Linked DNA regions of Homo sapiens. The protein of the gene in region 2 interacts with the protein of the main gene of each other region in a pairwise test. Each region holds a gene or a part of one and is shown on either strand. Other genes may lie near its edges. The genes, in order: KLHL20, PHYH, LHX6 and MALT1.

The links.
Region 1: the proteins of PHYH (region 2) and KLHL20 interact in binary tests that used the Homo sapiens proteins (3 or more experiments, as listed by UniProt).
Region 3: the proteins of PHYH (region 2) and LHX6 interact in binary tests that used the Homo sapiens proteins (3 or more experiments, as listed by UniProt).
Region 4: the proteins of PHYH (region 2) and MALT1 interact in binary tests that used the Homo sapiens proteins (3 or more experiments, as listed by UniProt).

The regions. Positions count from the first base shown.
Region 1 is NC_000001.11:173,731,965-173,738,989, forward strand, and holds part of KLHL20 (kelch-like protein 20), read left to right. Parts: intron 1-1,748; coding exon 1,749-2,322; intron 2,323-7,025. UniProt on the Homo sapiens protein: Substrate-specific adapter of a BCR (BTB-CUL3-RBX1) E3 ubiquitin-protein ligase complex involved in interferon response and anterograde Golgi to endosome transport.
Region 2 is NC_000010.11:13,290,043-13,297,067, forward strand, and holds part of PHYH (phytanoyl-CoA dioxygenase, peroxisomal isoform a precursor), read right to left. Parts: intron 5,565-7,025; coding exon 5,454-5,564; intron 4,555-5,453; coding exon 4,386-4,554; intron 1,871-4,385; coding exon 1,789-1,870; coding exon of another isoform or gene 1,783-1,788; intron 1-1,782. UniProt on the Homo sapiens protein: Catalyzes the 2-hydroxylation of not only racemic phytanoyl-CoA and the isomers of 3-methylhexadecanoyl-CoA, but also a variety of other mono-branched 3-methylacyl-CoA esters (with a chain length of at least seven carbon atoms) and straight-chain acyl-CoA esters (with a chain length longer than four carbon atoms).
Region 3 is NC_000009.12:122,225,940-122,233,200, forward strand, and holds the start of LHX6 (LIM/homeobox protein Lhx6), read right to left. Parts: upstream 3,019-7,261; 5' UTR 2,802-3,018; coding exon 2,718-2,801; intron 2,495-2,717; exon of another isoform or gene 2,419-2,494; coding exon of another isoform or gene 2,368-2,418; exon of another isoform or gene 1,861-2,367; intron 1,603-1,860; exon of another isoform or gene 1,542-1,602; coding exon 1,470-1,541; intron 1,092-1,469; coding exon 909-1,091; intron 559-908; coding exon 437-558; intron 1-436. UniProt on the Homo sapiens protein: Probable transcription factor required for the expression of a subset of genes involved in interneurons migration and development.
Region 4 is NC_000018.10:58,674,446-58,681,470, reverse strand, and holds part of MALT1 (mucosa-associated lymphoid tissue lymphoma translocation protein 1), read right to left. Parts: intron 3,862-7,025; exon of another isoform or gene 3,825-3,861; intron 1,000-3,824; exon of another isoform or gene 895-999; intron 302-894; coding exon 135-301; intron 1-134. UniProt on the Homo sapiens protein: Protease that enhances BCL10-induced activation: acts via formation of CBM complexes that channel adaptive and innate immune signaling downstream of CARD domain-containing proteins (CARD9, CARD11 and CARD14) to activate NF-kappa-B and MAP kinase p38 pathways which stimulate expression of genes encoding pro-inflammatory cytokines and chemokines.

The DNA.
Region 1 (7,025 bases), on a different chromosome or scaffold from region 2:
AGGCAGGCGGATCACGAGGTCAGGAGATCAAGACCATCCTGGCTAACTCGGTGAAACCCCGTCTCTACTAAAAATACGAAAAATTAGCCAGACATGGTGGCACATGCCTGTAGTCCCAGCTACTTGGGAGGCTGAGGCAGGAGAATCACTTGAACCCAGGAGGCGGAAGTTGCAGTGAGCCGAGATTGCGCCACTGCAGCCCAGCCTCCGTGACAGAGCCAGACTCTGTCTCAAAAAAAAAAAAAACCAGTGTGATGGCATGTGCCTTTAATCCCAGCTACTCAGGAGGACTGCTTGAGCCTAGGAGTTCAAGACCAGCGTGGGCAACTTAGTGAGACCCTCATCTCAAAAATTAAAAAAAATCAATAAGTAAAAAAACCCAGCAACAACAAATGGTAGAATAATCTGAAAAAGAGAGAGATTCTTTTCCTTCTCCCTTCTTGTACCTATTGTTCCTTTTGTCTTGGGATTTCAAAACTCAGGCCAGTGGCATTTAAGCTTTTTTGATATAACCTGCAGTTTACGAGGGGAAGCAGTGATGCGTATCTATACAAATTTGTGTGTGTACATACACACAATTGAACATGCTTAACTAAATGAAATGTATGCTGTTACTTTCTATTTCATTTTTTAATGCTTCTTATGAGGCACTGAATTTTACAACTAAACCTAGTCCCCATTTACAGCACTCTTACCATAGAAAAATGCAAACCTCCAAATAAACTTTTAGATTCAACTTTTAAATACTACTTATTTATAAATTGAAGAATGTCTGTTTATGAACTTATTCACTTATTTTATAATCATACCGAAACCTCAGTGATTCAGACCAATTTGACAGGAGCAATTCAACATATGTAGTACTTTTAAATGAAGCTTATCATATTTAATATCTCTAGATATGAAATTAGACCCAAATTAATCTAACAAAATCTTGACCTGGAGGCTCTTTGGAGTCCTGCTAAATCATCATTTAGCTTGCCATTTTCTTTACTATTTTAATTTTAATAAACTTTGAAGAAAAGATTTCTATATAAAGATAAACTTCAATCCAGACTTTTTTTTTTTTTTTTTTTTGAGACAGAGTCTCTGTCACCCAGACTGGAGTGCAGTGATGCAATCTCGGCTTACTGCAGCCTCTGCCTCCAGGGTTCAAGTGATTCTCATGCTTCAGCCACCCAAGCAGCTGGGATTACAGGCATGTGCCACCACACACGGCTAATTTTTCTGTAATTTTAGTAGAGACAGGGTTTTGCCACATTCACCAGGCTGGTTTCGAACTCCTGGCCTCAAGTGATAAGCTTACCTCAGTCTCCCAGGGATTACAGACATGAGCCACCACACCAGGCCGTCAGTCCAAACTTTTTATATTGTCTTTAATTTGAAATTTAACTATTAATTGAAGCGTGTTAACTTGGGCTTAATTTTTAAAATGGATAAGCATAACCACCTGATCTAAAAGTTTTATTGCTATAGTAGCTCAATTTAAATGGTTTATGTAGACCAGGCATGTTGGCTTATGCCTACAATCCCAGCACTTTGGGAGGTGGAGGCAACAGGATCACTTGAGCCCAAGAGTTTGAGACCAATCTGGGCAACACAGTGAGACATCATCTCTACAAAAAATTTAAAAAAAAAATCACCAAGCTAATTACATTTCCTTATCGCTTGAATTACAAACATTTAAGGGGAGAAAAGAGCTTATAATAATACTGCCATCTTCTCTCTCTCCCCCATCATTCCTATAGGTGTACCAACATTCGACCAGGAGAGACTGGAATGGATGTAACAAGCCGCTGCACCCTTGGAGACCCCAACAAACTGCCAGAAGGGGTTCCCCAACCTGCCCGCATGCCCTATATCTCAGACAAGCACCCTCGACAAACCTTGGAAGTGATTAACCTTCTGAGAAAGCACCGGGAGCTATGTGATGTGGTGCTAGTTGTGGGCGCCAAGAAGATATATGCCCATCGAGTCATTTTGTCAGCCTGTAGTCCCTACTTCCGAGCTATGTTTACAGGAGAATTGGCAGAGAGCCGTCAGACAGAAGTAGTGATCCGAGACATTGACGAGAGGGCTATGGAATTACTGATTGACTTTGCGTATACCTCCCAGATAACAGTAGAAGAGGGCAATGTTCAGACTCTTCTGCCAGCTGCTTGCCTCCTCCAGCTGGCAGAAATACAGGAAGCCTGCTGTGAATTCTTAAAGAGACAATTAGATCCTTCTAACTGCCTGGGCATTCGGGCTTTTGCTGACACACATTCATGTCGTGAGTTGCTAAGGATAGCAGACAAGTTCACCCAACATAACTTTCAAGAGGTGAGTTGCACTTGGTGTTCCAATGCACCCATTTGTTGGAGAGCAATATGGGTTCACATTCTGCTAAATAACACTTGCCTGGGTATTTCCTGCTGATTCTAACTCATAATAGCAAATAAATAAGTTATTATAAATCCTAAACCTGGCTTTTATTTTAGAGGGCAATTTTGTGTTCTACCAGCAAGTTAAGATTTAGGGATTTATTCTCCCTAACTGTATTCATAAAAGTATTTAAAAAAAAATTTTTAAAAAGGTTTATTTATAAGCCAAAATAGAGTAATTCACAAGAGGATCTATGCCTGATAGGATACCTGGTATCATGATTTATATAAGATATTTCCTTCCTGATTATGTGGATTATTCAGAATAAATTATAGATTATAGGTTGTTTGGTAAACTAATAATCTGAAAAGATGAGTTTAGATGTTATCAAAATAATTTTCATTAAACCTATCTTTCCCTTATTTATTTAACAAATATTTGTAAAGCTACTATGTTTCAGCCACTGTGCTTGGGAGCATAGGGTACAATAGTGAACAAGAAATCTAGAGTCTCTGTATTCATGGAGTTTATAATCTAGCAGGGAAGATAATCATTAAATGCTTAATTATACAAATAATTAACTACAGTTAATGGGTGTTACAAAGAAGCAGTCCTGGATGATTTAAGAGTGTATTACAGAGAAATTTAACTTTGGTGCTGGAACAACTTGTGCAAAATCCCAAGACATTAAAAAGCATCACTAGTTTGAAGACCTGAAAAAAACCCAGTGAGACCCAGAGACCAAGGGGGGTAGAGGATGTTACATAGTGATTACACAGAAAGAAGAGGGCTAAATCACACTGAGGTTGATAGACTATGTTAAGAATTTGAGATTGGCCTGGTGCAGTGGCACATGCCTGTGATCCCAGCACTTTGGGAGGCTGAGGCGGGCAGATTGCATGAGCTCAGGAGTTCAACACTAGCCTGGGCAACATGGCGAAACCCTGTCTCTACAAAAAATACAAAAATTAGTCGGGCATGGTGGCGTGCACCCTTAGTCCCAGCTACTTAGGAGGCTGAGGTGGGAGGATGGCTTGAGCCCAGGAGGTAGAGGTTGCAGTGAGCCAAGATCGTGCCACTGCACTCCAGCCTGGGTGAGAGAGCCAGACCAGACCCTATCTCAAAAAAAAAAAAAAAGAATTTGAGATTGATCCTAAGAGTGCTAGAAAACCATTAAAGGGTTTTAAGCAAAGACAAAACATGGTCTGTTTTACAACTTTTTAAAAAATCATATTTTTATTTATTTTGCAGTAAAGTGGTCAGCTCAGGACCATAGTTTTTTTCCCCCTAATAGTTTTTGGAGAACAGGTGGTGTTTGATTATATGAATAAGTTCTTCATTGATGATTTCTGAGATTTTGGTGCATCCACCACCCGAGCAGTGTACACCGTACCCAATGTGTAGTCTTTTATCTCTCACCCACCTCCCACACTTCCCCCTGAATCCCCAAAGTCCATTGTGTCATTCTTACGACTTTGCATCCTCATAGCTTAGCTCCCACTTATAAGTGAGAACATATCATTTTTGGTTTTCCATTCCTGAGTTACATCACTTAGAATAATGGTCTCCAACCAACTCCATCCAGATTGCTGCAAATGCCATTCTATCTTTTTTTTTTTTTTTTTTTTTTGAGATGGAGTCTCACTTGCTCTGTTGCCCACGCTGGAGTGCAACGGGGCTCAATCTCAGCTCACTGCAACTTCTGCCTCCTGGGTTCAAGTGATTCTCCTGCCTCAGCCTCCCAAGTAGCTGGGACTATAGGTACATGCCACCATGTCCAGCTAATTTTTGTATTTTTATTAGAGATGGGGTTTCACCATGTTGGCCAGGCTGGTCTCAAATTCCTGACCTCAAGTGATCTGTGATCTGCTTGCCTCAGCCTACCAAAGTGCTGGGATTACAGGCGTGAGTCACTGTTCCTGGCCAATATATTGTTCCTTTTTATGGCTGAGTAGTATTCTGTGGTATATATACATACCACATTTTCTTTATCCACTTGTTGATTGATGGGCATTTGGGCTGGTTCCGTATTTTTGCAGTTGTGAATTGTGCTGCTATAAACATGCACATGCAAGTGTCTTTTTCATATAATGACTTCTTTTCCTCTGGGCAGTAACCAGTAGTGGGATTGCTGGAACAAATGGTAGATATACTTTTGGTTCTTTAAGAAATCTCCATATACTGTTTTCCATAGTGGTTGCACTAGTCCACATTCCCACCAGCAATGTAAAAGTGTTCCCTTTTCACCACATCCATGCCAACATCTTTTTTTTTTTTTTAATTTTGAAACAGAGTCTCACTGTGTTGCCCAGGCTGGAGTGCAGTGGCATGATCTCGGCTCACTGCAACCTCCGCCTCCCGGGTTCAAGCGATTCTCCCACCTCAGCCTCCCGAGTAGCTGGGATTACAGGGATTTGCCACCACACCAAGCTAATTTTTGTATTTTTAGTAGAGATGGGGTTTCACCATGTTGGCCAGGCTGGTCTCAAACTCCTGACCTCAGGTGATCTGCCCGCCTTGGCCTCCCAAAGTGCTGGGATTACAGGCATGAGCCACCGCACCCGGCCTATGTTTTTATTTTTTAAATTATGGCCATTCTTGCAGGAGTAAAGTGGTATCACATTGTGGTTTTGATTTGCTGATCATTAGTGATGTTGAGCATTTTTTCATATGTTTGTTGGCCATTTGTATATCTTCTTTTGAGAATTGTCTATTGGTCTTTAGCCCACTTTTTGATGGAATTATTTGTTTTTTTCCTTGGTGATTTGTTTGAATTCCTTGTAGATTCTGGATATTAGTCTGTGGTTGGATCTGTAGTTTGCAAACATTCTCTCCCACTCCGTGGGTTGTCTATTTACTCTGCTGATTATTTCTTTTGCTGTGCAGAAGCTTTTTAGTTTAAGTTCCATCTATTTATCTTTGTTTTTGTTGCATTTGCTTTTGGTTCTTGATCATGAACTCTTTGCCTGAGCCAATGTCTAGAAGGGTTTCTCCAATGTTATCTTCTAGAATTTTTATGGTTTCATGTCTTAGATTTAAGTCTTTGATCCATCTTGAGTTGGTTTTTGTATAAGGTGAGAGATGAAGATTCAGTTTCATTCTTCTACATGTGGCTTGCCAATTATCCCAGCACTGTTTGCTGAATAGGGTGTCCTTTCCCCACATTATGTTTTTGTTTGCTTTGTCAAAGATCAGTTGGCTTTAACTATTTGGCTTTATTTCTGGGTTCTCTATTCTTTCCATTGGTCTATGTACCTATTTTTATGCCAGTATCATGCTGTTTTGGTGACTATAGCCTTGTAAAATAGTTTGAAATTAGGTAATGTGATGCCTCCAGATTTGCTTAGCCTTCCTTTGGGTATGTGGGCTCATTTTTGGTTCCATATGAATTTTAGGATTGTTTTTTCTAGTTCTGTGAAGAATGATGGTGGTATTTTTATGGGAATTGCATTGAATTTATAGATTCTCTTGGCTGTATAGACATTTTCACAATATTGATTCTACCCATTCATGAGCATGAGATGTGTTTCCATTTGTTTGTGTCATCTATGATTTCTTTCAGCAGTGTTTTGGTAGAGACCTTTCACTTCTGTAGTGAGATATATTCCTAAGTATTTTATCTTTTTTTTTTTTTTTGCAGCTATTATAAAAGGGGTTGGGTTCTTGATTTGATTCTCAGCTTGGTTGCTCTTCGTGTATAGCAGTACTACTGGTTTGTGTACATTAATTTTGTACCCTGAAACTTTACTGAATTCATTTACCAGTTCTTGGAGCTTTTTGGATGAGTCTTTAGGGTTTTCTAGGTATACAATCATATTGTCGGCAAACAGCGACAGTTTGACTTTCTCTTTAACAATTTGGATGCTCTTTATTTCATTTGTTTGTTTGTTATAAGAGATGAGGTCTTGCTTTGTCCCCCAGCTTTGACCTCCAGGGCACAAGCGATCCTCCCGCCTCAGCCCCCCACGTAGCTGGGACTACAGATGCGCACCATCATGCCCGGCTAATTTTTGTATTTTTCTGTAGAGACACGGTTTTGCCATGTTGCCCAGGCTGGTCTCAAACTCCTGAGCTCAGGCAATCCACCTGCCTCGGTGTCCCAAAGTGTTGGGAGTACAGGCATGAGCCACTGCACCTGGTCCTGGATGCCCTTTATTTCTTTCTCTTGTGTGATTGCTTTGCCTAGGACTTAAAGTACTATGTTGAATAGAAGTGGTGAAAGTGGGCATCTTTGTCTTGTTCCAGTTCTCAGGGGGAATGCTTTCAACTTTTCCTGTTCAGTATAATATTGGCTGCAGGTTTGTCATAGATGGTTTTTATTACCTTAAGGTATGTCCCTTCTATGCCGATTTTCCTGAGCATTTCAATCATAAATTGATGCTAGATTTTGTCAAATGCTTTTTATGTATCTAATGAAATGATCATATGATTTTTATTTTTAATTCTGTTTATGTGGTATATCACAATTATTGACTTGCATATGTTAAACTATCCCTTCATCCCTGGTATGAAACCCACTTGATCATGGTGGATTATCTTTTTGATATGCTGTTGGATTCAGTTAGCTATTATTTTGTGGAGGATTTTTGCATCTATGTTCATCAGGGATACTGGTCTGTAGTTTTGTTTCTTTGTTATGTTCTTTCCTGGTTTTGGTATTA
Region 2 (7,025 bases):
TAGATTGCCTGAGGTCAGGAGTTCGAGACCAGCCTGACCAACATGGTGAAACCCTGTCTCTACTAAAAATACCAAAAAAAAAAAAAAAAAAAAAAAAAAAAAATTAGCTGGGTGTGGTGGTGGGCACCTGTAATCCCAGCTATTCAGGAGGATGAGGCAGGAGAATCACTCAAACCCCAGAGGCAGAGGTTGCAGTAAGCCGAGATTGAGCCACTGCACTCCAGCCTGGGCAACAGAGCAAGACTCCATTTCAAAAAAAATAAAAATAAAAAAAGTTATCTAAGAGGTCCTCACCCCCCACAACTATAGTCATTCCATGTCCAGTCGGAGTGCCCATGACCACACTGACATTTTCCCCTGGTTTGCTCCCTGAGTGTGGCTCCCGAACACCTGCTCTCCTCAAGGAGGGAGAGACCTGGTAATGCTAAGCTGCCTTCTATCACATAAACCCCTCCTGCAGATCAGAAGGAAGAAAAGGCAGAAAGGATAGGGGGACTCTCTCATGGCTGATTTTTACTGCAGGCACAGAGGAATTTCCCAGTGTAGTCCAAGTGATCTGCACTACAATCTCTGGACTTGAACTCCTGGGCTCCAGCGATCCTCCCCCCGCAGCCTCCTGAGTAGTTGGGACCACAGGTGCACATCCACGCCCAGCTTGAGGAAGGTTATTAAAATACAGAAACCTGGGTTATATTTCTCAATCAGTCTGTCTGCCAATGAGGTCTTAGATTCTACATTTTAGCAAGCACAAGACATTTTAAAGACAACTATAGGCTGGGCGCGGTGGCTCACACCTGTAATCCCAGCACTTTGGGAGGCCAAGGCAGGTGGATCATCTGAAGTCAGGAGTTCGAGACCAGCCTGACCAACATGGCGAAACCCTGTCTCTACTAAAAGTACAAAAATTAGCCAGGCTTGGTGGCACATGCCTGTAATCCCAGTTACTTGGGAGACTGAGGCAGGAGAATCAGGAATTGTTTGAACCTGGGAGGTGGGGGTTGCAGTGAGCCAAGATCGCGCTATCGCACTCCAGCCTGGGCAACAAGAGCAAAACTCCATCTCAAAAAAAAAAAAAAAAAAAAAAAAGACCACTATAGTTTGTGACTCATAGTAACAATTTTAATTGTGTTAGTAATAATAATGTCTTCCTATCAGGAATGCAAGAATCCACACTATCACAGCTAAAAAGAGCTGATCAAGCTTAGAGACGTCGAATGGCAGGAACCTTTGATATATGAACAGTTATGTCGGTTAAACTGCATTTTTGGGGAGCCAGTCATCTGAAAATTCAGCAACAGTCCTACAGTTAATATCTGAAATAATTACCACATTTCACTGTTGTTATAGTGTAAGTTATTTTAAGACTTCCTTATCCAAAGTTTGACAGTTGTACACATGATTACAGTTAGACATCAGCTATTTTATTATTTTGTTTTGTTTTGTTTTATTTATTATGTAGAGATAGGGTCTCACTGTGTCACGCAGGCTGGAGAGCATGCCATTATAGGTTCACTGCAGCCTTCAACTCCTGGGCTCAAGTGATCCTCCCACCTCAGCCTTCCAATAGCAGGGACTACAAGTGCATACCACCATGCCTGGATATTTTTAAATTTTATTTTTAGAGACAGAGCCTCACTATGTTGCCCAGGCCACTCTCAAACTCCTGGCCTCAGAGATCTTCCTCCCTTGGTCTCCTAAAATGCTGGGATTACAGGCATGAGTTACTGCACCCAGCCAACCTTACACATTTTAATGAAACCATTTTTTTTTCTTCTCCCTTACAATTACCAGAATCTGGAGGTTTGTTTATCAACATTGTGTGCATGGCCATAATATTAGGTCCAGTGAAGCACTCCACATATTTCAGAATCTAAGAAAGCAAAAAAAAAACAAAAACAAACCTTGTGGGAAATCAGAAGTATTGACAACTGGTACAAAGTACAGTAGCTATCCACACAAGAACCAAGAAGGCAATAGTTTAAGAACCAAGCGGTATTTCACAACATTGCAAACAAAGCATGAAAAACCCAGCCATTGGAAATCATTCTAAATCTATAACACGGAATGAAATGGGCTTTTTCTGAGCTAGCTGGGAATGAAACCATTTTTTCTCTACAAGAAACATAGGAGTTCCGATGAGATATTAATATAGCTTTCTTGTCAACCCAAGCAACAGAAGGTTGCTCAGTGGGAGGGCAGTTTCCTCTTCCTCATTGGAGCCTCTGCATACGAAGAGTCCCATACAATTCACAGCTGTCATGAATAGCCCGGAAGAAAGCAGAATGGTGGCTTGGAGGACATTTGACAATCGGGGACGCTTGGCACTTGACAACTCATTACTGAGATCTGGGAACCAGGAGGTGACGGGAAATGGGGAAGCAAGAGTGAACAAGCAAAGCAGGTCCCAGGAGTTAGATGAAAAATGTTAACCCAGTAATGACATGGGTCAGAGTGGCCGAGGGACACTGCATTATGAAGAAAAGGCTAACATGGGGAACCGTGACAGGGAGAGCTGGTTTAGTCGTGGGGCCTGGGAGCTGGGCTGCCGCTACCTTGTGTACAGAACCCAGCAACGGAGAGGGAAAAAGCAGAAAGGGCTCAACACTGAGGTCGGGTGCGTTAGCGCACACCTGTAATCCTAGCACTTTGGGTGGCCGAGGCGGGCGGATCACTTGAGGTCAGGAGTTCAAAACCAGCTTGGCCAACATGGCAAAACCATATCTCTACTAAAAATACAAAAATTCGCCGGGCATGGTGGCACACGTCGGTAATCCCAGCTACTTGGGAAGCTGAGGCAGGAGAATCACTTGAACCCAGGAGGCAGAGGTTGCAGTGAGCTGAGATCATACCACTGCAGTCCAGCCTGGGCAACAAGAGTGAGACTCTGTCTCAAAAAAAAAAAAAAAAAAGAAGAAGAAGAAGAAAATAAAACAACCCATGATATTCAAATTTTGATTCTGCAAAAAAAAGACTCCAAAAAATAAGCCACCTTCTACTGCTTCCTCACTTTTTGATCTCTTGTGTATAAGGAATATTGGCAATTTGAGTATGAAACCCTGGAAAGGTTATTAAAAGCCTAGCAGTCAGGCACACACTTGCTTTTTATAAAGCCTGGTATTTTTTTGTATTCATCTAGGCTGGGATTTTCTAAATGCCAGCCATTCAAGAGCCATCCTCACAACTTCTGACATAACTTGTACTGTTATTTAGCCAATGATTTCCCTACCCTTAGTTAGCTCACTTGTTTTTTGTTTTTTGTTTTTGTTTTTGTTTTTTTTGAGATGGAGTCTCGCTCTGTTGCCCAGGCTAGGTGCAATGACATGATCTCGGCTCACTGCAACCTCTGCCTCCCGGGTTTAAGCGATTCTCCTGCCTCAGCCTACTGAGTAGTTGGGATTACAGGCGCCCGCCACCATGCCCAGCTAATTTTTGTATTTTTAGTAGAGACTGGGTTTCACCATGTGTCTCAGGCTGGTCTCAAACTTCTGACCTCGTGATCTGCCCACCTCGGCCTCCCAAAGTGCTGGGATTACAGGCATGAGCCACCGCGCCCGGCAGTTAGCTCACTTCTCTTATTCAATCTTTGTTTTTTTCTTTTTTTCCAATATAGACAATGGTCTCACTATGTTGCCAGACTGGTCTTGAACACCTGGCCTCAAGTGATTCTCCTGTTTCAGCCTTCCAAAGTGCCACTTCGCCTGGCCTTTTTATTTAATCTTGTCCTAATTAACAACATTTTTGAAATCATGAGTTTGGTAGACTGTTGAGTTTTTTTCCAATACATTTAAAAATAAATATCTATTAAAATAATTTATACCTCCTAAAATCATGGCATAGACCACCAGATACTGGTCCCATTCTTCAGAAATGTAGGACACTGGCCAGGCGCAGTGACTCATGCCTGTAATCCCAGCACTTTGGGAGGCCGAGGTGGGTGGATCACGAGGTCAGAAGTTCGAGACCAGCCTGAGCAATATGGTGAAACCCTTTCTCTACTAAAAATACAAAAATTAGCCAGGTGTGGTGGCAGGCACCTGTAAACCTAGCTACTTGGGAGGCTGGGGCAGGATAATCACTTGAACCTGGGAGGAAGAGGTTGCAGTGAGCCGAGATCGCACCACTGCACTCCAGCGTGGGCAACAGAGCGAGACTCTGTCTCCAGAAAAGAAAACAAAATAAAACCCACTGATTTTACTCAATTCAACTCCTTTCCATATCCAGCTCTAAGAGCAGTGGTTCCTGGGATCAAGCGATCCACCTGCCTCAGCCTCCCACAGTGCTCGGATTACAGGAGTGAGCCACTGCGCCCGGCCAAATCAGCGGGTTTTACAGGCAGACATACACACTGGCAATTAAGCCGACGCAAAGCAAGGGTGGTCTCTGACCTCGGGGAGAGTGCAGTATCTGAAGAGCTCCTTATCTTCCTGGAAATCCTGGACCTTCGTGATCATCTTCTCACTTGGAGCATATTCGGATTTCGAAATGGTCACATCTCTCATTACTGTTAATCCTAATGGTTTCACCTCCTTTCTGCAGATTTTTTCAAACTCATTCCTAGAAAATTTAATTTGCAAATGATGTCGTTACCGCTGGCTCCAAGCACCTGCCCTGCCCTCCTCTGTGGAAAGGGTTGCAGACTTGAGGGGTGGTTTCTCTGCACTAAGTTGGCCTCCAGCTTGAGGTAGAATAATTCCAATGAAAGGGAGGAGAAACTGTCTGGCTAGAATCCATTCCCAGAATTAAATTATTCCCTAGTTTAGCATACCAGTAGGGAAGTCTTTTTATAATTTGGTTACATTGTAATAATAATAACAGCAAACATTTCTGTAACACTTACCATGTGCCCAGCTCTCTTCAAAGTGGTTTCCATATATTTCACCGTATTTAGTCCTAATAACAACACTAGGACATAAGTGCTATTATTATCCCCATTTTACAGATGAGGAAACAGAGGCATGGGATGTGAAGTAAATTGCCCCAGGACACATGATATTAAGTGGTGGAGCTGAGACTGAAGCCCAGGCATGGTGGCTCCCGACTGTAATCCCAGCAACTCAGGAGGGTGAGGCCAGGAGTTCAAGACCAGCCTGGGCAACATAGTGAGACTCCCTGTCTCTAAAAACAAAGAAATAAAAAATTAGCTGGGTATGGTGGTGCACAACTGTGGTCCCAGCTACTCAGGAGGCTGAGGCAAGAGGATTGCTTGAGCCCAGGAACTTGAGGCCGCAGTAAGCTATGATCGCACCACTGCACTCAGCCTACACAACAGAGTGAGAACCTTTCTCTATAAAAAATAAAAAGCCAGTCTGGCACCAGAGCCCATGCTTCTAAACACTTCCCAACAAACCAAATCATTAAAAAACATCTGTAAAGCCAGGAGCGAATCCACCTTGTATTCTCATTACATGCACACAATACATACTATTGTAAAATAACAAATAGTGTTACTGTACCGAAAGCGTTGAATATCGGCATCAGGTACAAGATTTTTGATTACTAGAAACCCATTTTCTTCATAAAATTTTCTCTGTTCCAGGGTTAGAACGTTATTATCCAGAGTATACCTAAAGGAGAAAAAGAATCCCAAAATAAGTTACATTTTTAAATTACAGGCTAGGCACAATGGCTCACACCTCTAATACTAGCACTTTAGCGGGCCGAGGCAAGTGGATCACTTGAGGTCAGGAGTTTGAGACTAGCCCAGGCAACATGATGAAACCCTGTCTCTACAAAAAATACTGGTTGTGCCACTCCACTCCAGCATGGGCGACAGAGTGAGACCCTGTCTCAAAAAAAAAAAAAAAATTTAAATTACATCCTAAAAATATGTATCAAGAACCTGAGGCTAGGCGTGGGGGCTCATGCCTATAATCCCAGCACTTTGGGAGGCCGAGGCAGGTGGATCGCCTGAGGTCAGGAGTCTGAGACGAACCTGACCAACATGGTGAAACCCCATGTTTACTGAAAACACAAAGTTTAGCCAGGCATGGTAGTGGGCACCTGTAATCCCAGCTACCCGGGAGGTTGAGGCAGGAAAATCGCTTGAACTTGGGAGGCGGAGGTTGCAGTGAGCTCTGATCATGGCACTGCACTCCAGCCTGGGCGACAGAGCCAGACTCCGTCTCAAAAAACAAAAACAAAGACAAAAACAAGAACCTAGGAAACGTTCATGCTCTTCAATTCAGCATTTCTAAGACCAAGGAAATAATCTGAAAACTTACGCTTTATGTCACCAAAACAAGTGCATTAGTGGGCCGGGCACAGTGGCTCATGCCTGTAATCCCAGCTTTTTGGGAGGCTGAGGCAGGTGGATCACCTGAGGTCGGGAGTTCGAGACCAGCCTGACTCACATGATGAAACCCCATCTCTACTAAAAATACAAAAATTAGCGTGCCTGTAATCCCAGCTACTCAAGAGGATGAGGCAGGAGAATCGCTAGAACCTGTGGGGGTGGAGATTGCAGTGAGCCAGGATTGCACCAGTGCACTCCAGCCTGGGTGACAGAGCAAGGCTCCATCTCAGAAAAAAAAAAAAAAAAAAAAGTGCATTAGTGGAAGAAAAATTAACTAGTGACACTATGTTCACTCAGTGGAATATGACTCAGACATTAAAAATTAAGGCCATATAATAGTATGGATGGCGGGCACAGTGGCTCATGCCTGTAATCCTAGCTTTGGGAGGCTGAGGTGGGCGGATCACGAGGTCAGATCGGGACCATCCTGGCTAACACGGTGAAACCCGCCTCTACTAAAAATGCAAAAAATTAGCCCGGCATGGTGTCTGGCGCCTGTAGTCCAGCTACTGGAGAGGCTGAGGCAGGAGAATGGCGTGAACCCGGGAGGCGGAGCTTGCAGTGAAGCAAGATGGCACCACTGCACTCCAGCCTGGGCGACAGAGCCAGACTCGGTCTCAAAATAAAATAAAATATAATAAAATATAATAAAATAAAAAATAGTATGGACAATGCTTATTATAATAAAATATTATTACAATTATGTAAAACCAAGACACTATATGAAAAAAAG
Region 3 (7,261 bases), on a different chromosome or scaffold from region 2:
CCACCATGAATGACGTCCGAGTAGGGTTGGAACTCGAAGCCCGAACGCACTGGAAATGCAGCCGGACGACGGCTGGGATCCGAGTGGGTCCGGGCCAGAAATGGGGACCTCAGAGCTCCACCGAGGCGCTCGAGGTCAGAACTGAAGCCTGAGACTTAGGCAGGACCCGAGACAGAGCCAGAGACGATACCGAAACCCAATGGACCGCGAGGACCGAAGGCAGATCCGGGGCGCAAACCTGTGCAGGCACTGGCGCGCTGCCTGGAGCTCTGGGTTCGCGCCGCTGAGCGCCGGCAGGTTGGACCAGCGCTGCGCGCCGGAAGTGCACTCGGGACGCCGGGGTTCTGGAGGAGAGACCACACGCCGCAAAAGTGGCCTCCGAATGCGCCCGGGGCCTGCCCTCGGCGACACTGCTGGCTCGGCGGCCGCAGCCTACCTGAAGTAGTCCATCTTGCAGAAGATCTCCTTGTTCTTGATGTAGCAGCTGTTCTGCTGCCTCAGCGACGTGCGACACACGGAGCACTCGAGGCACCGCACGTGCCAGATGAGGTTGTTGACCTGGGGACGGGGCGGGGACGGAGGTCGGCTCAGCGCGGGCCTCTTTCACTCCGGGCCCCAGCCTTCCCGGTCTCATTTACAGTCAGAGGCGCTGAAGCTCAGAAGGTGCATGCGATTCCCCTATTTTTCTCCCGTAATACTGAGACTCAGGGAAATGGAAATAAACTCTTCTTATTTTTCAGACGGAACCCGGGGGCTCAGGCAGACCCTAAGTCTTGCCCAAAGCTTCGCAGTCGGGCAGCAGTGGAGCCAGGATTTGGAAGTAAGAGGACCTGCGGTGCTTCCCTGCAGTCTCCTGCGCTGCGTCCCACGCCCCGACAACACGCACGCAACACCTACCCCTGTCTCACCTTGAGCAGATATCGGTCCAGGATCTCGAGGCCGCAGCTGGAGCAGATGTTCTTGCCTGCAGACGGCACGGAGGAGGCGGCAGAGGGCGGTGAGCAGACAGATGGCGTGCTGGGCGTACATGGGGAGGCCTGACCCTCGTCCTTGTCCAGAGCTCCTGCCAGGGCCTCGGCGTCAGACTGAGCCTGCGGCGGGGGAGAGAAGGAGAGGAGCGCTGATCCGGGCACCCAGAGTTGGGGCTGCCTTGGAGACAAATCTGGGGCCCCCGAGCACCAATTGACAACGAAATCTCCCCAGGACAATGCGCCGTAGACTGAAGGACAGGGATGGAAGGGCCTATTGGAGAGGAAGGGACGGCCCCAACTTTTAACACGCGCATTCTGGGTGCTGGGAGCGGTTAAAGCCAACATTCCCTGCCGGAAAACCGAGGCTCAGAGAGGGGCGGCGCCCGCCGGGAGTCCCCCAGAGCGTGAGCAGCAGTTCGTGGCCGGAAAACCTGGCCAGGTCCCCAGGGCCGGGCCGCTGGAGGACTGGGCACCGCAGGCAGGGCCAAACGGACTCACCATGGCGGGCGGCGCGGTCCCTTCAAGACAGCGGGTGGTCGCTTTGCAGCCGGACCCTGGCTGGGCCATCACCTGGGGGAGGGGGGGAGGGAACGCAGGCGGCGGCGGCTGCTGAACTGGCTCCGCACAGCCTGAGCCCAGCGCCTCCCCGCGCCTGTTATATAAACCGGCGCCGAACAATGAGTCCTAACTTTGTAGTGGGCATTTAAAGCCCTTCCCCACAAAAGCGGTGTCTCTCTAATGAAGCAATTTGAATTTGGATTGGATTTTTTCCCTCTCTCTCCCCCTCTCCCTGCACTTAACCCGTGGCTCTTGAAGTAATCGCTTAGTTCCCTTGCAATCCAAGCCTCTGAGGGGGGAAGAAAAACACGCGCACACACACACAAACTACCTGCAATTAGAAATTGTCGTGAATGCCCAAGATAAGAGGTAGCCAGAGTGTCAATTCCAACTGTCAATCAGTGAGATCCATCAGGCCGCCCAAAGAATTGCAAATTTGATTTTTTAATGGTAGTAATTAAAAATCGAATTTTTTCTCTCTCCACCCGCCCCCCCACCCCACTCCCCTTCCTCGCTCCCTTCTCCTCTCGGCACAAAATGCAAAAAGGAGAAAAGAGAGAAAGAAAGAAAATAAAAAAGAGATGGGTGAGGGGCGGAGGGTGGTTGAAGAAAAGAAAACCCCGAGCGCGGTGAGCACCCGCCCGCCCGCCCGCCTGACACGCGCGGCGAAATTGAAGCAGCTATATTGACACGGATTCAGGCGCCTTTCGAGGGCCAGTCGGAGGGAAACCCGGAGCAAAAAGAGAGCGAGATCGGGGCGAAACGGGACCAAAAAGAGAAAAGAGAGGCGCTCAAGGGGAGGAAAAAGCACCCTCCAGCCCCTCGGCGCGCCGGGTACCGGCCCCGCGTCGGGATTCTCAGCGCTGCGCCGGCACAACCCCCGGCGCATCGGCGCTATCAGCGCCTATTCAGACGGACAATACCGGCCTCGCCTCCTCTTGATTCGCCTGTGTCTTTACTAAATCGCTTTTTGAGAAATTCCTCCAACATTTGCATAATGTGTTCCCGCTTTCCGCGACCCCCCCCCCCCGCTCGCGCGCGCGCTCCCACACTCACAAGCACACACTCACAGGCGCACCCTCGTACCCCTCCTTCCTGCAACCGCCCGCCACCCTGCTCGGCCCGGCTGGGTCCCGGACCCTGCCCGACCCCGGCCCGGGCCGCTCACCCAGTCGTTCGCCGGCTCACCTGGTCGGTGGCGGGGCCGCCCTCGGCCGGCAGCCGGCAGCCCTCGGGCAACGCCGGGGCGGCGTTCTCATGCTTCCAGTACATGGGCCGGGGAACCTCGGGCTCAGCGGGCGCGCAGCGCGGAGAGCTGCGCCGAGGGGGACCACAGCCGCAGTGGGAGCAGAGGCTGCTGCAGGAGCAGGAGGAGAGCCGAGGCGCCGGCCCCGCCGCCCCGGGCCCGGCCTCAGCCCCCGCCCCCGGCCCGCGCGCAGCCCCGGCCTCCCTGGCTGCTGCCGCCGCTGCCTCGGAAGAAGGTCCCGACAAACTTGGAGAGGCCCCCGCCCCCTCCTTCTTCTCCTCCTCCCCCTCTTGGTAGTCCTCCTCCTCCTCTCCCTCCTCCTTGTCCTCCTCCCCCTCCAGCTGCAACGGCGGCCGCCCTGCCGCTGGAGCCCCGCTCGGTTCAAGATGAGTCATGCGTGACCAATCCCCTCCCCGCCAAGGGAGAGCAAGACACACACGACGAGGCAGAGACCCAGAGAGAGAGACACACACACAGACACAGAGACACACAGAAACTCAGAGCTGCCGACAGAGAGACTCGGAGACACGCCAGTACACAAAGGCACCGGCGGGCACACATCCACCCAGCTCTCACTACCGCTCCTCCCTCAAGGGGCACCCATCTTCCTCAGACACTGCCCCACTCACAGGTACAGGAGGGACCCATGGCCATACCATCTGCGGAGATAGATTCCGTAGGAGGTCACACGTTATTACACTGTGTTGATGCAATCCCATGCCTGGTACATTTGTGTACACACTAATGTAAGTGATTACCTGTTCACATCATTTACACGGGCACGAGGCACCACACTTACTCTCACACACCTGCACAGATACCTCTGCTCTATAAGAACCAGACAGTGCACCAGCTCCCAGGGACTGAGGTGAAACGGGAGGGTAGTTTCCCTGAATTCTCTTGGAAGGGATTGCTTGGCACATTCCCCTTCCCTTCAGGATTTGCTTAACCACACAGTCCAATGCCCATCCCTTCTTCTCTAGGGTTCTACTGACAATGAGAATGGTAGGGAAGGCAGGAAGGCCCAGGCATTTAGACAGAAGACACTGCCCCCAGACACACAGACACAGAACCTTCAAACCCAAAGATGGAGCCTTACACACACTAACGCCCTGCAGCATACACAAGTGGACACTTAGAGTCTCAGCCCCCTTCTCCACACACAAACTGAGCCTAAAGAGACACATGTAAACATACATCATCTAAAAACAAATAAGCACACTCAGACATAGATCCAGCCCTACAGACACCATGACAGCCTACCCTCACCACATCACACATGTCATCACCTCCATAATTGCCCTCATTTACAGATGTAAACACCCCCCCACACACAATTGTTCTTCCATTTGTACACACAGCCATACTCAAGAGGGCACAGATTTTCACAGAGCTCCAAACCCATGTATAACCTTATGTCCTCTACTCAGGCACCCTCAAATATGTACTTACATCCTTACAGATGGTGAGACAACTATTGATAGGCATTTATAGGCAGACACATCACACACACTTCTGCAGCCATAGATTCCCAATAGTTATAGTCTCAGTTTGCACACACACAGGCAGGTTCTGACAGGCGCAGGTAGTAGAGGATGCCTGCACACCAACACGATACTAAAGATCCACACCCATATTCCCCAAAGATACAAATATCTGTTCCTTTACTGGCATCAAGGTACACAAAAATAGCCCCAGCCTCAGCTAATGGCATTTCCCGCCCTCTGCATCCCAGTCATTCATTGCTCTCAGACACAGAAATTCAGAGTGAAAAGAGTTTCTCTTTGAACCCTAATCTTTTATACGAAGAGAACAAGTTGCAATGTGAAAGCGGGTGAGGTGTATGCATAGGTACACATGTGTACACACATACACATGCATTCTCAAACATGAATACAGAAGAACAACCCCTCCCTCTCAAATATCTCCTTTGCACATAATAATTTCAGCTACTACTGGGATTATTCCCAGTTATTACAGCTACTAATCTGTGCCAGGCATGATACGAGGCATTTTACAATCGTGATCTCATTTTCTTTTCACAATAATCCCGTGAGGTAGCATCTCTCAGCGTGCTTGTTTTACTGATCAAGAGACTGAGGTTCAGAGAGTTCATGTGATATATCCAAAATGGTGCACATGGCTAATTGCCAGAACCAAGGACTTAAAACCACATTCATCTCACATTAGAGCTCATACTCTTGATTTCTAGGCTGCAGACATGACCATGTTTACTTTCTGCACACACACATGTGCACACACACACACACACACACATACACACACACTCCACATTATCTGTTAAAAGACCTGGATGTGACTCCCAGCCTCACCACTTATAGGCTCAGCCTGTTTTCTCATCGGCAAAATGGGAATAACAATAGGACCTGCTTTACCTCCTTCTCTTCCTCCCCTTTGGGTGGCTGGGGGAATTGAAAGGTTAATAAACGTTATAGAATGCTGCACATATGCCAGATTTGTGAGTGCAGAAGGGCCCCAGGAAAGAAGACCATGAAGATCGTACTGGCTTTGCAAAACTTCTTAGACATGAGCCATGGAAGAGGCTTGAGCTAAAACTAAAGGGCAGGTGAAATTTGGATGGGTTCAGGGAGAAGAAGAAAGTATTTCAGGTAGAGAGAGGACCACAAAGGTTCAGAGGCTGGACAAACAAGCTGCTGCACTCTAATGAGGGGGAATGTGAAGCATGTGCTCCTAGAGTGATAACAATAATAACTATTTATTGAGCATTTATGTGCTAAGCCCTTTGTTGTTTACACGCATTATCCTCTTTAATCCTTGCAACTACCCTACAAAAAGGTTATATTATTATCTTTCTTTTATAGTTGAGGAAACAAGCTTACAGGAGTCCCATCTGAAGCTCTGGCACTCAGATTTTAGAACCCAAACTCTTACCTACTATGCAATTCTGCTCCTGAATTCTGATTAAGTGCTCAGATAATAAAAACTGGAGTAAGAGGCAGTAAAGTCAGTAGTGAAGCACAAAGACTCTAGGGCCAGATGGCCTTGATGCCAACCTTGGCATCTGTTTTCTATTCCCTTTATTACTTTATTACTTGGGTAACCCTGGACAAGTTCTTCAGCCACTCATCAGCCTCAGTTTCCTCATCTGTAAAGTGGGGATAACCGAGTTCAACTCCTATGGTTGTGAAAATTACGCAAATGATCCATGTAATAGGGCTCAGAAATATGCCAGGCACACAGTAAGCAAATGATAAACAGCCATCATTATGGCAATGGACCGGCTGAATCTTGTGGTTGTGATTCTACTAGGTACTACATCAAATTCTTTATGAAGGCAGGGGATGAATCAACCAAAAAAAATCAAATCTTCTCCTGAATAACTTACCTAAGGAAGATGCAGAACCATTATTCGAGCCCAGAACTTGCCTAACTTCAAAGAGGACAGAAGTGAAATTACTTTGGAAAAGAAATCTCTCTTCCAATGACTCCTGACTCCATCTTTTTCCATCAGGAAAAAGAGTCCAGATAGGAGTGACCTTGGCAAAATTAGGATTAGCAAACATAGTACCTTCCATTAGGATACTTGATTTCTTCCTATGACAAACTGTGGGTCACTTTGAGTCACTTAGCTTCTCTGAGCCTCAGTTCCTCACCTGCAAAACGGGGAATAATGATACTGACCTCTCAGAATTGAAGTGACAACTAACTATACATTAAAAACTAATATTTTGGCTGGGTGCAGTGGCTTATGCCTGTAATCCCAGCACTTTGGGAGGCCAAGGTGGGTGGATCACAAGGTCAGGAGATCAAGCCCATCCTGGCCAACATAGTGAAACTCAGTCTCTCCTAAAAATACAAAAATTAGCCGGGTGTGGTGGCAGGTGGCTATAGTCCCAGCTAGTCGGGAGGCTGAGGGCTGAGGCAGGAGAATTGCTTGAACCTGGGAGGCAGAGGCTGCAGTGAGCCGAGATTGCACCACTGCACTCCAGCCTGGCAACAGAGTGACACTCGATCTCAAAAAAAAAAAAAAAAAAAAAAAAAAAGAACTAATATTTTTTAAAGTGTTGTAGATTTATTCATTTATACAACCCTGAAGCTGTATTAAGCACCCTACATGAATAATGGCATCTTCTCACTTTGCAGTTCTTCTCCCGGTCACTAAACAGGATGTGGTCATCTGGTCCTCTGGGGTGAATTTTGCCATCTTCCCCCATTTGAGTCTAGGCCCAAGGGTTCAGTTTGAAAGAGGCTTCATTAGTAACTGGATAATTCTGTGGGAGGCCCCCAGCAATGGTTCGACCCTGCCGGGGAGTAATTCTAGGAAGGTAATGTGAGCTGGGGGAGGCTGGAGACCCAGCTTCACATTTATTTACTTTGACAGCTAAATTGGTGAGCAAGGGGGAAATCAGATGAAAGCCATTTCAGAGTAAATACTAAATACGAAATTTAAACATTCAGATTGTGACAAATGAGAAAGGGACAATGGGAAGAGACACGGCAGCAC
Region 4 (7,025 bases), on a different chromosome or scaffold from region 2:
GGGAAAGCAAACAAGGCACTACACATTTACATTTTCCAAAAATACTTAACACAGTTCACCTGGTCAAAAGAGATAATTTCTTCTAAGTTTGGCTCCATGAACTCCTGGAGAATAATCCTAAGAACAAAACCTACCTGGGGGGCTGAGAAGCTGAAGAACTTCAGTGTGTTCCATAGCCTGCAGGAAATCACTCAATTCTGTGACTGTGCAACCTTTTTCACCCATTAACTTCAGCAGACACAGGCTGGGGCTTCCTTCAGGCTCCAGTACCTTAAGAGAACACTGCTCCAGGTCTAGGCAACTGAAAGCAACAGAAAGAATTCAAGTCAACAGCTTTCTTCCACATGATACACCTGCTATATATCTGGACCACGGTGGTGCTGTATGGAATAAATCACAAGTGAGTGGGTGGGTGGTGACAAACTATTCACATAATGAATGCGAGTATCCTTTCCTCCTCTTTCATCACGGGGAATTCCTCTTTATTCCCTTCTCCCACTCAGCTCCCATGATTATTTTTTTTTTTTTTTTTTTTTTTTTTGAGACGGAGTCTCGCTCTGTCGCCCAGGCCGGACTGCGGACTGCAGTGGCGCAATCTCGGCTCACTGCAAGCTCCGCTTCCCGGGTTCACGCCATTCTCCTGCCTCAGCCTCCCGAGTAGCTGGGACTACAGGCGCCCGCCACCGCGCCCGGCTAATTTTTTGTATTTTTAGTAGAGACGGGGTTTCACCTTGTTAGCCAGGATGGTCTCGATCTCCTGACCTCATGATCCACCTGCCTCGGCCTCCCCAAGTGTCCCATGATTATTAAATCAGGAGAATGAGAAACCCAGAAACAGGATGTGAGAGAAATTGAGCCTTGATACTGACAAAGGTTTTTTTGCCTTTAATTTAGGAATGGGGAATAGGAAGGCCAGAAAAATTTCCTTACTCCTTCTTCAAAGATGATGAAATACAAAATGACCCCAAATGAAGCGGATAGAACAATCAGTGTTACAAGGTTAGCAATTGAAAAATACTAAAAATATCCTTAATTACTAGTTTAAATAAATTATGGCATGTATATCAAATGAAATACTGTTAATTCATTAAAAAAACTGAGCCTGAGGTAAAGGCATAGGTCTTTAAGACATACTGAGAAATGAAGGAATTAACATAAAAAACTGTGTATAATACACTACTATTTGTATTAACAAGGTAGTATGTCTATGTGTGTATTCATATGAAAAAAGGAAGATACAGAACAGCGTTTGTTATTACCAAGATCATTTGTGTGTGTTCTTATACATGGAGAGTAAACTCTGAAAAGGTATCTAAGAAACTCGTAGCCATAGTTGCCTCACAGAGGGTAAGACAGTAGAGCTCATGGCTGGATGATCTACTTTTCACTATAACCCCTTTTGTACTGTTGATTTTTTTATGTGCATTTATTTTTTGATAATTTTTTTTTAATAGAGATGCTGTCTTGCTATGTTGCCCAGGCTGGTTTCAAACTCCTGGGCTCAAGCAATAATCCTGCCTCTGCCTCCCAAAGAGCTGGAGCCACCACTCCTGGCTCTTTTGATAATTTTTAAAAAGTATATTTAGAAAGAGAACCAGTACTATTGACATTCAAAGTACTTAGGCTGGGCACGGTGGCTCACACCCGTAATCCCAGCACTGTGGGAGGCCAAGGCACGCGGATCTCATCAAGCCAGGAGTTTGAGACCAGCCTGGCCAACATGGTGAAGCCCCATCTCTACTAAAAATACAAAAGTTAGCCGGTGTGTGGTGGTGCACGCCTGTAGTCCCAGCTACTCAGGAGGCACAAGAATCGCTTGAACCCAGGAGGCGGAGATTGCAGTGAGCTGAGATCATGCCACTGCACTCCAGCTTGGGCGACAGATCGAGACTCGGTCTTAAAAAAAAGAAAGAAAAAAACCAAAGTACTTCTAAGTACCTAGAAATATCCTATTGCAGGGACCATGGCCTGTGGGCCAAATGTGTTCAGCTACCTGATTTCTGTAAATAAAGTTTCACTGGAGCACAGCTACACTCATTCATTCACATATTCACAAATGTCTATGGCAGCTCTCCTGATACAACTGCAGAGCTGAATACCTGGCTGCAAAGCCAAAAATATTTACCATTGGGCCCTCTATGGAAATAGTTTGCTAACCCTTCCTTTAAAGAATGTCTTATTGTCCTTTTATTAAAACTATTCTTTTAAAAATACCAGTATTTAACATACATATACAATTTCCTTTTCCATGTTATTGTGTGCAGTAGTGGTATACCAGATTAGAAAGACAGGTTAAGATCAGATCATAGAAGGCCATGAAGAATGGAACAATGATATGAATTGTAATCATTTTATAGAAGGGGAAAGTACAAGTATTAAACATTCAAGGGGAGACAAAAGAATCAAGAAAAAACCGAGCAATCAACGACAGAAAAACTTTCCCAAAGAAACATAACCAACAACAGCCAACCAAAGTGTTTAGATAATCTGCATGATATACTGTAGAATTCACACCTCATCCATCTTTGCAGATCCTGCTCCTTTTCCTGCCAATTTGAATTACAGTCCCATATTAACTCTAGCTTCTCTACAAGGTCCTCCTAGACCACACCAGTCCACCAAACACACTTTATAGACACAGTCTCCTAACTGCACTTATTTTATAGACAACTGTTTTTCTAAGTGGCCAGCAAGGATATATTTTAGATATTCTGGGCCATAGAGTCTCTATCACACATTCTTCTTTGTTGTTTTTTGTTTTACAATTCGTAAAATACAAAAACCAGTCTTAGATCATGGGCTATATGAAACGGGTAGCAGCCTGGATTTGGGCCTTAAGCAGTCATGTGCAGACTTGTTTCATGTTTTATCTCACATAATTTCACCTTAGAACGGTGAGCTTTTCTTCATGAGCATGAAGAAAAGCTGCCTTATCCAACTAGATTATAGTAAACTCCTTGAAAACAGAAACCCCATCATATTAAACATATATGTGTGTGTATACACACACACACGCAGACATAAAATCCCTCAATACCTAAAATTCTGTCTTGTCCATATTAATTATGCATTAATGAATGATTACTGAATGAATTTCAATCATAATTGTCAAGGCTGAAAGCCTGAACAGATGCAAGAGGTGAAACATAATAGTGCCAGGGTGTGACAGAATCAAGGTTAGCAAACTATTTTATTGCTTGAAATATTAATCCTCATTCATTTTGAGTAGTCTTATGAAGATGCTGTCATAGCATTTATACTGTTACCCAAGATTTAAAATTCAGTGATAATGTTGATTATTTCATATGGAAAAAATGTATACGATCAAATTAATTTCATTAGTAATATTATCTACCTCATAGGGTTGTTAGAATTAAATAGCTAATCCATGTAAGAAGTGCTTAACACAGTGCTTGGCAAGTAACAGACATTCAATAAAGGTTAGCTCTTATTATGCAATAAGAATATGGGGATATTAAAAGAATATTAAAGCTAACTTCTTAACTATGCTTATTTCTGAAACAATTTTAGCTTTTCCTTAAACATTTTTTTGAGTAACTATTATTTTGGTAACCTGAAAATGTCCTCTAAGGCCTCCTGTGATCACTATATTTACTAGGTATTCTTTTCTAAGCATCCTAGTTCAATTTTATTATATTCAATATGCCATTCTTGTTAAATGTGAATCATCATATCACAAGTCAACCAGTCTCAAATTCTGGACTGTAGACCAGTGGCAGCACAATCTGCAGTCCAAGGTAAAATGATAAAAATAAGGACAATAAAGCTGTCTTTTATTCTAAAATTGTCTTTTCCATTTTTAGGTGTTAAAGTGTTCTTTCTTTTAAGAAACAATGGTGACTATGATGACAGAAAACATAAAAAGGTGAAGCTGCCTGTTAGTGCTCTTATTTTGTGAAATTTTATTTTACTAGTTTCTGAAATACCCAAGTGAAAGAACCTGTATTAGAAACAATACAAGGATTACTAATTTTGTAAATAATTAGAATGAGATTTGTAAAAATAGGGATGCTGTATGCTAAATATAATTTTTATGATTCAGAAGTTTACCAGGATCTGATAAATGAAATTAAGAAGCCATCTCATCAAATGCAACCAAGTGATGCTTTAATTAATGTCTATATTGATATAGAGAAAATTAAAAACACTTGGCTTTCCTTCCCCCCCAAAAGAACAAAGATCAAATTGAAGTACAGATGATTTCTCTTCCATTACAAGAGGCACAGGAGAAAAAGAAGACTCTGTATCTCTTTTTGTTTTTACTGATTTTCCGTATGGGCACTGGCTTTCAGCTAAGATGATGCTTATACATACCTAACTTTTCTTTCTTTCCTTTTTAAGTTACATTCCTGTAAGAGTGTGCTTTGAAGTAGTTTCTGAAAGTCCTAATTTAGAATTTTTGATTTAATTTAAAAACTGCTTTATGACTGAAACAAATGTACTTTACTTTTTAAAAATATCTCTATTTTTATCTTTAAAAAAATATATAATCAAATAGAATGTATTATACACCCTTTAGGGGACAAACCATAATGCTGTTTTTAGGTTCTTCTGCTTCTCCTCTTGGTACATTTACTATTTGGAATCTTTATTCATTAATTTGATCTATTTCTCCATCACCTAAAATAGGCCACTGTTTTTTCTAGGTGTTGAGGATACAGCAGCAAACAAAACAAAATTCTGTATCTTCCTGGATCTTTCATTCTAGAGAAGTACAGACATAAATTTAAATAAACACAGAGATATCTTTTTGTGTATGTATCCAACTAACCAATGGTCTTAAGTGTTGTGGAGGTAACGCAAGTAGACAGGTAACACTGAGCAGATGTAGAGGGTAATTTTAAATATTATGATCAGAGAAGAGCTCAGTGAGGTGAACAAGTCATGTGGTTACCTGTGGAGACCATCTCAGCCTGAGTAGGCAGCAAGTACAAAGACTACTGTGTCCAAAGGAAGGCAAGAAAGCACATGTGACCAGAGTAGAGAGGGATGGAGACAAGAAGATATCAGGTTGAAGAGTGAACTGGTAGCTAATGGTGTTTTTACTCTGAGATGGAAAAACAATAGGAGAGTTGGCATTTTTTTTTAATGGGGTCTATCTATGTTGCTCAGGCTGGTTTTGAAGTCCTAGGCATAAGTAATCCTCCCACCCTGGCCTCCCAAAGTGCTGGGATTACAGGTGTGAGGCTACCACGCCTGGCCACAATAGGAGAGTTTTGAGCAGAGGAGGAATAAGACCTGATGTGATGTTTTAAAAGAATAATTCTTACTGCTATATTGGTAACAGACTGGGGTGGGAGCAAAGCAAAACAGGGAGAAGTTAAGTGGCTACTGGAATAATCTAGTTGAGAGACAACGTGGCTTGGCCCAGCGTGCCAGCAGTGGACATTGGATTCTACATATATATAGTGAAGGTACAGCAGGAAGGATGGGCTGACAAAAACGATTTGTGTGTAAAAGTGGAGTCAGGAATGAATTCGAAGTTTTTGGACTGAACAACCAGAGGGTGCAGAAACTGAAAGAAAGAGGTTTATAAGGGAAGACGTGTTAAATTTTGGACATGTTATATTTAAGACGTGTCTTAGTCATTCAAGAGAAGATGGCAAACAAGTGTTTACATACGTGAATCTAGGAGTTCAAAGCAGAGAAATGGGCTGGAAATAGAAATTAGGAGTAATCAACCCAAATAAATGTAAAGTCATGGGACTGAAGGATAAGACCAAGAGGGCGAGAAGGAAACCTTTTTTAGTTTATTTGTTTTAGAGACAAGGTCTTCTCTGTCGACCATGCTGGAGGTTGACAATACCTAAATCAATAAAATTCTGTCTTGTCCATATTAATTATTCATAAATGAATGATTACTGAATGAATTTCAATAATAATTGTTGAGGCTCACTGCAGCCTCGAACTCCTGGGCTCAAGCAATCCCACCTCAGCCTGCAGAGTAGCTGGGACTACAGGCCTGTGCCACTATGCCTGGCTAATTTTTTGTTTTTTTGTAGAAACAGGGTCTCAGTATGTTTCCCAGGCTGGGAGGAAACCTTCTGTTAGAGCCTTTTACACGTTCTCATTCCTATAATAAACTGCATGAAAGCAGGATTTCTGCAGCTAAAAGTGCACCTTCTACTCAGCAGGTATGCAATGACTGTTTTTCCATGGTCCAGGTTCCACAGCCCCATTTCTAAGCTCCCTACTTAACAGAATTTTAGGCAGCATTTAGAACCTCCTGGAAGGTCTGCCATCCTTAGGGCTCAGATGTTCCATGCCACCAAAGAATTTACATAGCTTGGGCAAGACCCTCAGAGTCTGTGTCTATCTACACTAACAGCAAAGGGTGTCCAGGTCAGTCTTGAATGGAATCAGGGCCGGGTCTGACTATAGCACATTCCCAAATGTACATGGTTGTGGGGAACTAAGCTATCAACAAGGATTTACTCTGAGTCATCAGCAATGAAAACATTTACAATTATTTCTAATCTCTTGTAGACAGTTTGAACGGGCTCTTTTCTTGTGGTTTACTTATTTGTATTATTAAATTTTCACCCAGTTTGAGGAAAGATGTAAAGTGTCAGAAAAAAAAGTGAAGAGAAGAAAAAGAAACAGAATGGGCAACATTTCGAGATTCTAGGGCTGCAGATCCAGTGACTGAAGAAAGCACTTCACAGCCTCGTGGGACTTGTCACCCACACGGACTAGACACTCACACTATAATTCCTGTCTTTGGCACCAGAGAAAAAATACCTTTAGGACCTTCTAGTATCACAGATCTTCTCCCAACAGCATGAAATCACTTTACAATAACTTTTTTGTCTTAAATAGAGTAAGCATCCCCAGCTGACCTTGCTTCACTGTCCAGCCCCCAAGCTCCCAGTGCTGTTTTTTGAAAAAAAGTCCGTTTAATTCTTCTGATCTCCATAGGGATGAGCTTAACGTTCCCAAATTCTCCAACCCTTCTCACCCCAGCCAACCTCCTCAAAACTAATCTTTACCATCTTGAAAGACAG